Regions from separate parts of the Homo sapiens genome. Here region 1 is linked to region 2. Evidence: fine-mapped expression QTL. A gene starts in region 2. The other region holds a variant in brackets. All regions are shown on one strand. Distances are from middle to middle.

What was found. PIP is the estimated chance that this variant, and not a neighbour inherited with it, causes the effect.
Region 1: its variant is fine-mapped to the expression of VIPR1 in whole blood (TOPMed, PIP above 0.99). The same link has a PIP of 0.9 or more in CD4 T cells, T cells and blood mononuclear cells.

The regions. Positions count from the first base shown.
Region 1 is chr3:42,524,474-42,529,679 of GRCh38, forward strand. VIPR1 (vasoactive intestinal peptide receptor 1) reads left to right here. Exons shown (of 13, transcript NM_004624.4): 4 at 1,414-1,520; 5 at 2,920-3,023; 6 at 3,518-3,650. Among named protein-coding and RNA genes, the nearest start is that of VIPR1-AS1, 5.5 kb to the right of the region's middle. RefSeq lists a silencer at 171-341. The variant C/T (reference allele first, on the strand shown) is at 2,475.
Region 2 is chr3:42,500,200-42,505,669 of GRCh38, forward strand. It overlaps VIPR1 (vasoactive intestinal peptide receptor 1), which reads left to right and starts at 2,444. Exons shown (of 13, transcript NM_004624.4): 1 at 2,444-2,614. The coding sequence starts at 2,537. RefSeq lists an enhancer at 942-1,515 and silencers at 2,043-2,142, 2,203-2,702.

The DNA of each region.
Region 1 (5,206 bases), 24 kb after region 2:
TGCGGTGGAAATAGACCCAGCCCACGGCTGCTCTTTCCTGGCTGTCCCATCCCCACCCCTAGCTGTCCCTCAGTTCTTCATCCATGAAGTAGGGTGACAAGACCTCTTTCCAAGGGTTGCCAGGAGGATTTACAGAAATGGTGAATATGGAATCACCTGGTATATTCCGGGCATACGGCAAAGTTTGGAAATAAACACACGTGCCCAGTGACACTTCCTGAGCTCATAGAACAGCTTGACCCTCCTGCAGCTCTTTATCTGGTCACCGAAATAAGTCCTCAGGTCACCTCCATGCAGGTGAGAACCAAGCTTACCTGGGAAGACTCTGGAGACCAAATCAGCTCTATCCTGTCCTCTCTATGTAGCCTTGGGCAAGTAACCAACCTCTTGGGGCCTCCACTTCTTAACTGTGAAATGGAGTTAACTTCCTCACTGGATGATTGAGGAAATTAAACAGGATGTGCCTAAAGTGCTTGACCAGCACTGACATTTGAAAAGTACTCAAAACCTGTCATTGTGATGAGGCTGACAACAGTGATGCTGCTGATGCTGCTCATGGTGACTATGGCGGTGGTGGTGGTGGTGATGAACGGGTACTGAGATGGGGAAGCGTGATTCTTCTCTGGCTCATCTAATTTCTATTCAACCCATCCTCTCCCTCTCTGGGGAGAGGACACCTCCCCAGTGCTGGAGAGTGGGGAGCCTCAGTGGTACCCCTCACCTCACATACCCCCTAAGCGGTCCTGTCTCTTTGCTGCAGCTTCAAGCCTCTGAGGACAGTGGACAGTGCAGCTTGCCTGGAGCCTCAGCCTCTGCTTGTTTCAGCCCCAAGCTCCTGCCATGCTGTGCTGCCTGATTCCCCCTCACATGCCTTTGCCTGCACAGGTTCCCCAACCCCACCCCTCCTCACCCCCACACTCCTGCTCCCCCTCCAGCAGCACATCTAAGCCCTTCCAGGTGTGAGAAGAAACCCAGCCCCACAGGCCCAGGCAGGCTGACTGAGGAGGACCGGGCAGGCCTGGGCCCCTTCCCCCAGCCGTGGCCTTGTGACAAGGGTCAGCATTCTGCTCACGGCAAGGGTCAGGAATCATTCTGTGACAAGGATCCAGGCAGGGTCTGTGACAAGGATAAGAGTGTATGTTGTACTTGGGGTCAGGTTCAGACCATAACAAAAGGGCTGAGCCCAAGAATGTCTGCTCTGATTCTATCATCGGTGCGGGAGCCCTGAAGAGGCTTCTCCCTGCCCCAGGTGCCCCCACGGTGCCCTGGGTAACTGGGTCAGGGCAGCTGGAACCTGACAGCACCAGGGTTGGTGGGAGTAGGGCTGAATTCTCTGCCTTGTTCCAAGCAGAGACAGCCAGGTCCCCATGCTCCCGGCCTCAGCCTTTGTCCTTGCCCCTGCCCTCCACCCAGGCCGCAATGTAAGCCGCAGCTGCACCGACGAAGGCTGGACGCACCTGGAGCCTGGCCCGTACCCCATTGCCTGTGGTTTGGATGACAAGGCAGCGAGTTTGGATGAGGTGGGTCTCAGGGCACCCCCACCTCACCTGCAGAGCGCCGGGGCCCACCTAGGAGACTTTGATCTCTCCCACCGAGGGGTGTGGTTGCTGTCTGTGTGGGAACAGGACTCCTGGAGTCTGCCCTCCTCTAGCCTCCTCCAGGCCTGCCTTTCTGGGGTCCCAACCCTTGGCTCCCCCTGACAGGGTATGGGAGGAGGCTTTCCCACAGGAGGGGCCCCCAGAGCAGCAAAAGCTGAAGCAGCTCCCCCAGGCTGGGCCACCCTACTGCCTCATGGGAACCTCACTTCAGCCCGGGAGTTGGCAGGGCAGGCAGACACCAGCACCCCATCCCATCCAGAGGGGAAACCGAGTTGCTGCAGGTCCTGGAAGGAACCAGACTTGGCTACCAAATAGCCAGTCAGGAACAGGGACAGAGCCTGTCATTCTCAGTCCCAGGACAGATATCTTCCCCGGAGCAGTTAAAACATGGTCTCTGTAAAGACTGGGGAGCCTGGTAAGGACATTGATGGGGAGGCTGGAGTCCTCAGCTAGGAGCCCCTCACTGCTTTGGGGTGCAAATGCATGTGTGTGTGTCTGTCTGCGATGGCATCTGCCCCACCCTCAGGCGCCCTTCTCAGACCGGGCTTTCACTCCACCCACCCCCGAGGACAGCAATTTCTTCAGAGGCCTTTGAAGCCCACTGGAGCTATAGGCCCTCATTCCCCCTTAACCACTTGCCTCTCCTCAGGCAAGCGTGGGAGGCTGACAGGAAGGAGTGGCTTGCCTAGTGGCTGTCGTGCTGCACTGCACCTGTGTCCATGGGGAGGGCATCAGGAGAGGGGACCAAGCGAGACACCCTCGGGGCCTAGCTTTGCCCTCCTCCACCGGAAAGGCCAGACTGCCCTCATCCCACCGACCCCAACTCCCAAGGGCCCAAAATGGGACATACTAGTGCCAGTGTCTTCTTCGACATCC[C/T]GCAACCTCGCATACCTCTCCTCCCTATACAGAGACAGGGCCTCGAGGGGTGTCTGAAGGGCAAGCAGACCCCACCCCTAGGGTGCCCAGCTCAGAGCTGGCACAGAAGGGAAGCCGGGCACATGGCTGGAGACATGAAATTAACAAAAGGGACGTGCAAGGTCTTCATTCTCTCCCTCACCAACTTGTCCCTCGTAAAGAAGCAAAGACAGGAAGTACATTCAACCCCCACCCCACCCTAAGACACAGTCCTGCCCTGTCTGTAGAAACCAGGGCGTTAGGGGTCAGGGGCTCAGCTGCTCTTGGGAGCCCCAGACCTCAGCCTCCTCATTTGCTGAGGCAGGGTTGGGCAGGCAGAGTGTGTAGGGCACCCCACCCCTGCCAATACCCCCTAGATGAGCCTCCCACCCCACCACCCAAGAGCCTCTCCCTGTCCCTCCAACAGCAGCAGACCATGTTCTACGGTTCTGTGAAGACCGGCTACACCATTGGCTACGGCCTGTCCCTCGCCACCCTTCTGGTCGCCACAGCTATCCTGAGCCTGTTCAGGTGAGGCCCAGCCCAAGTCACAGGCCTCAAAGCAAACCTGGCAAGTGTCCCTCCCACAGTGGAGCCCAGCGTGGCCCAGGCGTGCCCCGACCCCTCCACTGTTGCCCCCCAGCAGCACATACTCCCCAGCTCCTGCCAGGCCAGCTTCCCCTGGAGAAGGCAGGTGGCTGAGCTCTTCCATGTGTTGCAGCCTAGTCTCCCCTAGGATGGCCCTGCACCTGGGGACAGGGCACCAGAGAGTGGGGCCTGCACACAGGAATGAGGCTTCTGGGGCCACACACGAGGTTGAGGCCCTTGGGAGCCCAGTTGCACAGGTGGATGGGGTACCTGGGGGTGGGGCTCGTATTTCAGGATGGGATCCCCTTTGAGGCGGGGCCTGCCCTCTGGAGGACACATGCTCCCCTGCCCCACCCTTGCTCAGCACATAGGACAGCATTGGCTGGGGTGGGGATCCAAGGCCCCTTTGGCCTCCCAGATCTGCCCACCCCACACAGGAAGCTCCACTGCACGCGGAACTACATCCACATGCACCTCTTCATATCCTTCATCCTGAGGGCTGCCGCTGTCTTCATCAAAGACTTGGCCCTCTTCGACAGCGGGGAGTCGGACCAGTGCTCCGAGGGCTCGGTGAGGATCCTGGCCCTGGCCCACCTCCCTCAGTCTCGCCGTTATCTTTAACCACTGTAATCTCCTCTTCTCCCCCTGCTTCTCCCTCTCCCTCCTCCCTCTTCCCTCCCACCCCACCCCTCAATCCAAGGATAGCCTAACCCCCACCCAACCCCACCTGGCAGTACTCAAATCACACTCCCCTCCGGCAACAGGAGATGTTGCTCACCCATCTGGGTGCTCACAGACCTGCCGCCGCCAGTGAGAAAAGCAGATGGGAAATGGGACACTTCATGGCCACAGCCCAGAGCACCTGTCCCACCTGTTGCTAACTTCCTATGTGGCCTTGGGGAACTTACAGCCTCAGTTTCCCCATCTGTGCAAGGAATTCCAAGATTCCTTCCAACTCTGCCATCTGCCACCTGCATAGCCAGGGCTCTGCTCACCATGCCACTTTTCCTACTCCCCCCGTCCCCGTGCCATCTGGAGTGGGTCCATACATATGCAGTCCTCCTCTTTTGTTCTGATCCTGACAGCAGGCTGGTTCTGGGCCTTCCTAGGGAAGAGAGGTAAAGGGATCATCTAAGGAATTCATTGCCAGTCACTAAGGGGGCCATCTCCAAGGGATTCTTAGGGACCCTCTCTGAGTGCCCCAAGCTTTGACAGAGAGCTTGAGATCAGCCCCAGCCCCCACTCATTCCTTGTGGTCAGTAACTCATTGCTTCATGCATGACCCCAGAGGCAGTGCATTATATCAGGGGTCAGCAGTACCTTCTCCCCAAAGAGTGAAATGATCATACTGGAATCTCAGGCATTTCAACAAGGGGGAGAGAAAACCTAGGGGACCCACTTTGGCCATTCCCAGAGCTTCTCAGAGGTTCTGTCCCAGGAGCTGTGAGGCCAAGTCAGACATGAGCATTGTGAGCCACAGGACCTGTGGAGGAACCTGCTGCCTCCTGTGCACATGTTACGGATAATTATGGAGACTGGCTTCCCAATTCATTACTGCGAAGCTTTTCTAAGACTAGGAAGAAGCACAGATAACTGTCCTGGTAAAGAGCTGAGTTATGGCCAGACGCGGATTATGGCTCACGCCTGTAATCCCAGCACTTCTGGAGGCTGAGTTGGGCGGATCATGAGGTCAGGAGTTCAAGACCAGCCTGACCAACATGGTGAAACCCAGTCTCTACTAAAAATACAAAAATAAAAAAAATTAGCTGAGTGTGGTGGTCAGCACCTGTAATCCCAGCTACTCAGAAGGCTGAGGCAGAATAATCGTTTGAACCAAGGAGGCAGAGGTTGCAATGAGCCGAGATCATGCCATTGCACTCCAGCCTAGGTGACAGAGCAAGACTCCATCTCAAAAAAAAAAAAAAAAAAAAGAGTTATTCTCCAAAAGCAAATGGGAGGAAGATGGGGAGGCAAGAACTCCTGTAACTGGAGGGACTGAAGCGAGACCTGAGGAAGGACTTTCCAACCAAAGGGAGTGGTGGGGGCAGGGGGAGGCTTCTCTCTGAGGATGTCGCAAACCAAGGGTACAGGAAGGAAGGGTGGGAACCAATGTTTTGGGTACAGGG
Region 2 (5,470 bases):
ACTGCCTCCAACCTGGCCATCCAGCCCTCCAACAGAGGAGAGGAAGGGTAGTGTGGGCCCCCCTCCAGAGCCAGGGGAAGGCAACCCATCCCCACTGGTAGCCAGTCCCTCTCCCTCCCTCCCCACCCTGCCCACCAGCCATTCACTGGTGGGTCACATGGCAAAGTGAGGTCTGCCTCTCCAATCCTCACACCCATCATATACCCTCAAGTGTCCAAGAACCTTGTCCTCCAGGAGAGCAGGAGAACTTCAACAACCCTGGGGGCATGACACATTAATGATAGGATTTCAGCATCCTGCAGCTGGCTAGGTGCTGTGTGTGTATGTATGTGTTGAGGAGTGAGGGCTGAGGATTCATGACACCCCAAACCCACAGGTTTGCTCTTCACATCTAGGGCTCCTAGGACACCATGCCAGCACAAGTAACTTCCCAGGAAAAAGACACAATTCCACTGTCCTGCCAGGGAACTGAGACCCGAGACGGGGTACACAGGGTCATAAGGAGAGACAAAGACCCCTGATTTCTGAGCTAACAGCAGCCGTCAGGGGTGTGGATAGCTGAGGAGATGGCTGAGGATGATTCAAACACTCCCGCCATTGGGAGATCGAGTACAAACCCAAGAAAGGCTAGGACAGAGGCATCTCCACAGCTCCCAAATCTAAGGAAAGGCCTGTGTCCAGCCTCACTGATTATATCGGGAAGGAGGTAGAAATTGCAGGGAGTACAGTAGCTCCCCAAGTTCCCCTCATGGCAAGGGGATGCTGCCCATCCACCTCTGTGCCCCCAGTGCACAGCACAGGGCCTGGCACACAGAAAGAGATTAATAAATGTGCATGGAAGAAAGGAGGGAGGGGCTCCATGGTGGCGAGGTTCCCTTTAATGAAGGGAAGGAGGAGAGGGAGGAAAGGGAAAAAGAGCAAGTGCAGGGGATGGAATGCTGGAAGGGAGGAAGAAAGAAGAGAAAGAAGAGAGAGTGGAAAGAAAGTGTAAGTACGCCCTGAAGAAAGGGCCAGGGCACTCATCCCTTCCCGGCTTTCCCCCACTCCCCTCAAGCCCACCCCATGGCAGCATCCCAACGTTCCCTCTCTGTAGGGAGGGAAGCCCTGGTGGGTCCTCAGGGAGCTCCTGCGCGCCTGCTGTTCAGCCAAAGCCTAGCGCGGGACCTCCTTCAGGTAGCCGCACATTCTGCTCAGGGCTCTGGGACCCGCTGCCCTCTCCGCCTCTCCACTGAACTCCGCCTCTCCTTCTGTCACACGGCTCCGCCAGCCACTCTATCCTGCCGCCGCGACCACATCTCCAGCCTCGATTGTGCAGGCTCGAGCCCGTAGAAAGAGGGCTAGCAGCCACCTGCGCTTGGTCCACAAGAAGACGCGCTCCCAGGGCGCAGAGCTGGTGACCCCGCTCCCCATGCCAGGGACGAATAAACGAGAAAAGGGGCTGACCCGGTGTCACCCAGCGGCCGAGCAGCCGCCCCTTGGAAGCTCAGCACCAAAGGCAGGCGGCCAGGGTCCTGGCCCCTCTCTGGACCCCAGTATCCCCAGCTGTAAAATAGGGAATGCAGGAGGAGGACGACGTCTGTGGATCGTTTTAGGTCAGCTGCGGAGTCGGCCTGCGGGCTGGGAGCAGACCTCGCTCCCCACGCGAGGGCGCTGGCACTTCAGCCCAGCCTCCCTGGGGAGGTGCCCTGGACGAGACCCGCGAGGGTGCGGACACCTCATCCTCCCTGGAGCAGGTCTCCCGAGGCTTGAAGGGCCAGGGCACCCAACAGGTGCTGAGCGCGCCCCACCAGGTCACCCGGGAGCAGGGAACACCAAGGAACCCAGAGTCGGGCCTCTTTCGAGCCCTCGCTTCCTCTCGCCTGGCTTCTTCGGCGCGAAGGATGAATTGGGGTTGTTGAAAATTGATCAAACAACCCGATCTCTGTCAGCGCCTGGACACTTGCTGGGCCCCAGCTCGCAGCCTGGGAAGATAAGTGGCACTTCCTGTCTCGTAATCGGATTTGCGCGCACGAACCCTCGGAGACGCACAGGTGGGAAATGGGGAGGCTGGCGGGGAGGCCTCCTGGAGGAGGTGGCTCCGAGGGTAGACATGAGGAGCGCCCTGGGATGGGGCTGAGGGTGGATACAGAGGTGGGAGCTTGCGAAGGTCGTGAGCTAAGCATGGAAGGATGGAATGTGTTCGGGTCTCGAGATTCCCGGGTGATGAGCCCGGAGGGGCGAAGGCCTATAAATGTCTCACGACGGAAGACCAAGGTGTGGGATTGGCAAAGAGAGAGCAGAGCTTCCTCACTGGCAGGGGCTCCCCAGCCCCGCCCCATACCTGCGCGGCGGCCCCGCCTCCACCCATCCATTGGCTAGATCCGCCGCCCGTCAGACGAGCCCCCGGGGCCCGCCCCCAGCCCTGAGCTGCGCCTCTTAGCTCTGGGGCCACAGCGCCAGCGCCACTCTGCCAGGCTCCCGGCCATCGCCCGCCTGGTGCGCCGCCCGCCAGCTCTTTGCCCGCGCGGGGCCGCCCGCCGCGGGCTCAGGGCAGACCATGCGCCCGCCAAGTCCGCTGCCCGCCCGCTGGCTATGCGTGCTGGCAGGCGCCCTCGCCTGGGCCCTTGGGCCGGCGGTGAGTGTTCGCCCGGCCGCCCAGAGTCCCGGCAGCCTGGGGGTTGCGGAGGGCGGGGGAGGTGGGGGATGGCGGGAGCCGGGCCGTCTGTGCGCGTGTCTGTGTAAGAGGAATAGGGGACATCAAGCATCTCGACTCGCCTCCTCCCACCGCTCCAGACCGAACCTAGACGCGAGGGCTGGGATATTGGTCGTGCCCAGTCCCTCCCAGCGCAGCCCGGAGCAGGCACAGCATCAGTGGAGGGGCAGCGGGGAAGAGTGGGCCCCAGACTTGCCTTCCTTGTCGTGGTTGTGGGTGCGCAGCGGGGTGGGGCGGCCAGTGGGTGCAGAGTCAGGTACTGCGGCCGATTGAGATGGAAGGTTTGGTACACCGTAGGTGAGAGGGAGGATGTGAGGGGCCGTTCTTGTGTGCTGTGACCGTCTGGAGGTGCCTGTGGGCTGTCAGCATCAGAACCAGTGCTGGGGGCCCCAGGACTTGAGAAGGGGTTCTTGGGATCAGGTGAGTGACAGGCACATCCCTCCGTGTGCCCTCCCACTGAGCAAAGCAAAAAGGTACCAGACCCCAAGGTGGAAGCTGGTGGGCAGTGAGGGGCTAAGGGTGGTGGTTAACAGGAGGGGCCAGGCCTGTACATGGAGAGAGCTGAGCAGGGAGCCAATGCCAACAAGCAGTGGCCTCCCTCTTCCTCCCACTTCTGCTTCCTCTCAACGTGGGTATGTGTATGCCCTTGATACATGTGTACTCGTGTGCCCCATGTGTGGGTGTGATATGTGTTCCTGTGGATGGCTTACCTGGGCTGGGAGGCAGATGCTGATTGAGGCAGGAGATGCATGGATCATCTCACTCTAGAACAGGGGAGACCTCAGCACTCATTGAGTCTACTGAAGCCCATTTTACAGATGGGCAAAGCGAGGTCCAGAGACACAAGAGCCACATCTGTCTCCCACCAGTTAGACCTAGACAAAGGTTGATTTTCTCCCTACCCCAGACTTTGAGTAATCTAGAGTTGCTGCTTAGGCAGGGCCTTAAATGCCCACTCCAAGTTGGCTGGGGGAGGGTGAGGAATCTTGATTATCTAGTTCATTCTCTCCCATGGTCACTTCCCTTACCATCACCTCCACCAGAGCAGGTATCTCTGTGTTTCCATCTAGCGGATGTCTTGAGCACCCTGGGAATGGGAAGCTCATTGCCTGTCCTAGGAGCGGACCTCTGACAATTGGCAGGAGCCTCACCTCCACCCATGACAGCCATGAGACCCACCTCCTGAGCACTCAAAATCTTACCAAGCTCTGTCCCAGAGGCCACAGCTCTGGCACAACTTGCATGAAGCCTTCAGGCCTCTCCAACCACCATCTGGCCCTCCCAACCCCAGGTTCAAGCCACTCAAACTCTTCTTGGATGAACCGGGGATCTTGGGACCACTGTTGTCACCCCATTCCTCCATCCCGAGAAGCTTCTGAGCCCAGGGGCAGAGTGGATTCAGAGAGGTCTCCTTTCACACCAGGCCACTTCTACTTCACACTTCCTGAGACAGCCCAAATCTGTCTCCTCCCTCCAATGCCTACCCTCCCCCTGTCTTTCCACATCTTATTCGTTTAGTGCCCAACTCTATCTCCTCCTCCAGACAGCCTTCCCTGATTGCTCCAGCCAACTCAACCCTTCCCCCTCTAACCCCACCCTTCAGCCCTACCCACCTCCCAGGCTGGGCTATTCTGGCCATCCTATAAGGTCAGGGGCTGGGGTCTCTTACATCCCCATGTTTCTTACAGCCCAGTGCAGGGGCTGGGTCCACAGAGAGAGGAGAAGGGACTCAACCAGGACTGGGTGAGGGCAGGCTGGAGTGAGGGGTCCCTATTTCCCTCCCTGATTCTCCCTCCTCCCCACCAGCTACCAATCGCTCCCTCATGGAATGGGGCAAACCTGCTCTAGCCGGACTCGGTGTGACGGCGGGGTGGGGGGGCGGGGTGACAGGAGTTATCAGAGTCATAAAATGGCAGCTGCAAAGTTCAAGTTGAAGGCCCAAGGCCTTATCACTCCTGTTTATGGTGCCCTGACTTCAGCCTGGGAAGGAGAAATCTCTGAAAAGGGAGGCAAAAAAAAAAAAAAAAAAAAAAAAGGAAAGAAAACCTCCAGTGTCTCAGAGGAGGAAGTCTGCCCCAAGGCCACCTGTCAAGCCTTCCACTGCCCCTGCCCCCCGGACAGCAGGCACAGGGACTCCTCATCCAGAAGCAGAGCTGCTCAGGGCAATGCCCAGTACGAGGCTGGGGGAGGAGGGTCACAGGCCTCCTCGTGGGAAATTCTCTATCTGGTGTGGGAGACCAGACCCAGTGACTTAGGAGAAAGAGTCCAGGTGGATGTGGGGTACAGCCTCCTAGAACTGGGGCAGGGGTTGCTGAGAGGAACAGTCAGGGGAGGCTCCTGGAAGAAGCAGGACTGTGCCCTAAAGAGTTTGACCAGATGGGCCAATCTTTCACCCTAAACCATAAAACAGCCTCTGTTGACAGGACCAATGGGCCTGCCCCCAGAAGGAGGAGTCCCAGGGACTGGGAGAGGCTCGACTTCTCCCCAACTCTGAGGTTGATCAGTGGCCACAAGCTCCTGAAGGCCTTGCCTTGCCACCGGCATCCTGCTGCCCCTGCCACCTGCCTCTAGCCTCTCCAGAGGCGGACCACAGCTGCCCAGGCCCTCTTGGCCCCCAGCAGGCCACCCTGTGAGCTTTGGGAAACATGGCTGCATCTGGGTCAGGCCTCCTCCTCAAGTGAGGTTACCACCTCAGTTAGGCCTGGCCAGGGCTCCCAGGGTACCATGCTGGAAAAGCGAGCCCTTTTGGAAGTTTCTACCCTCCTGTCCTGGTGCACT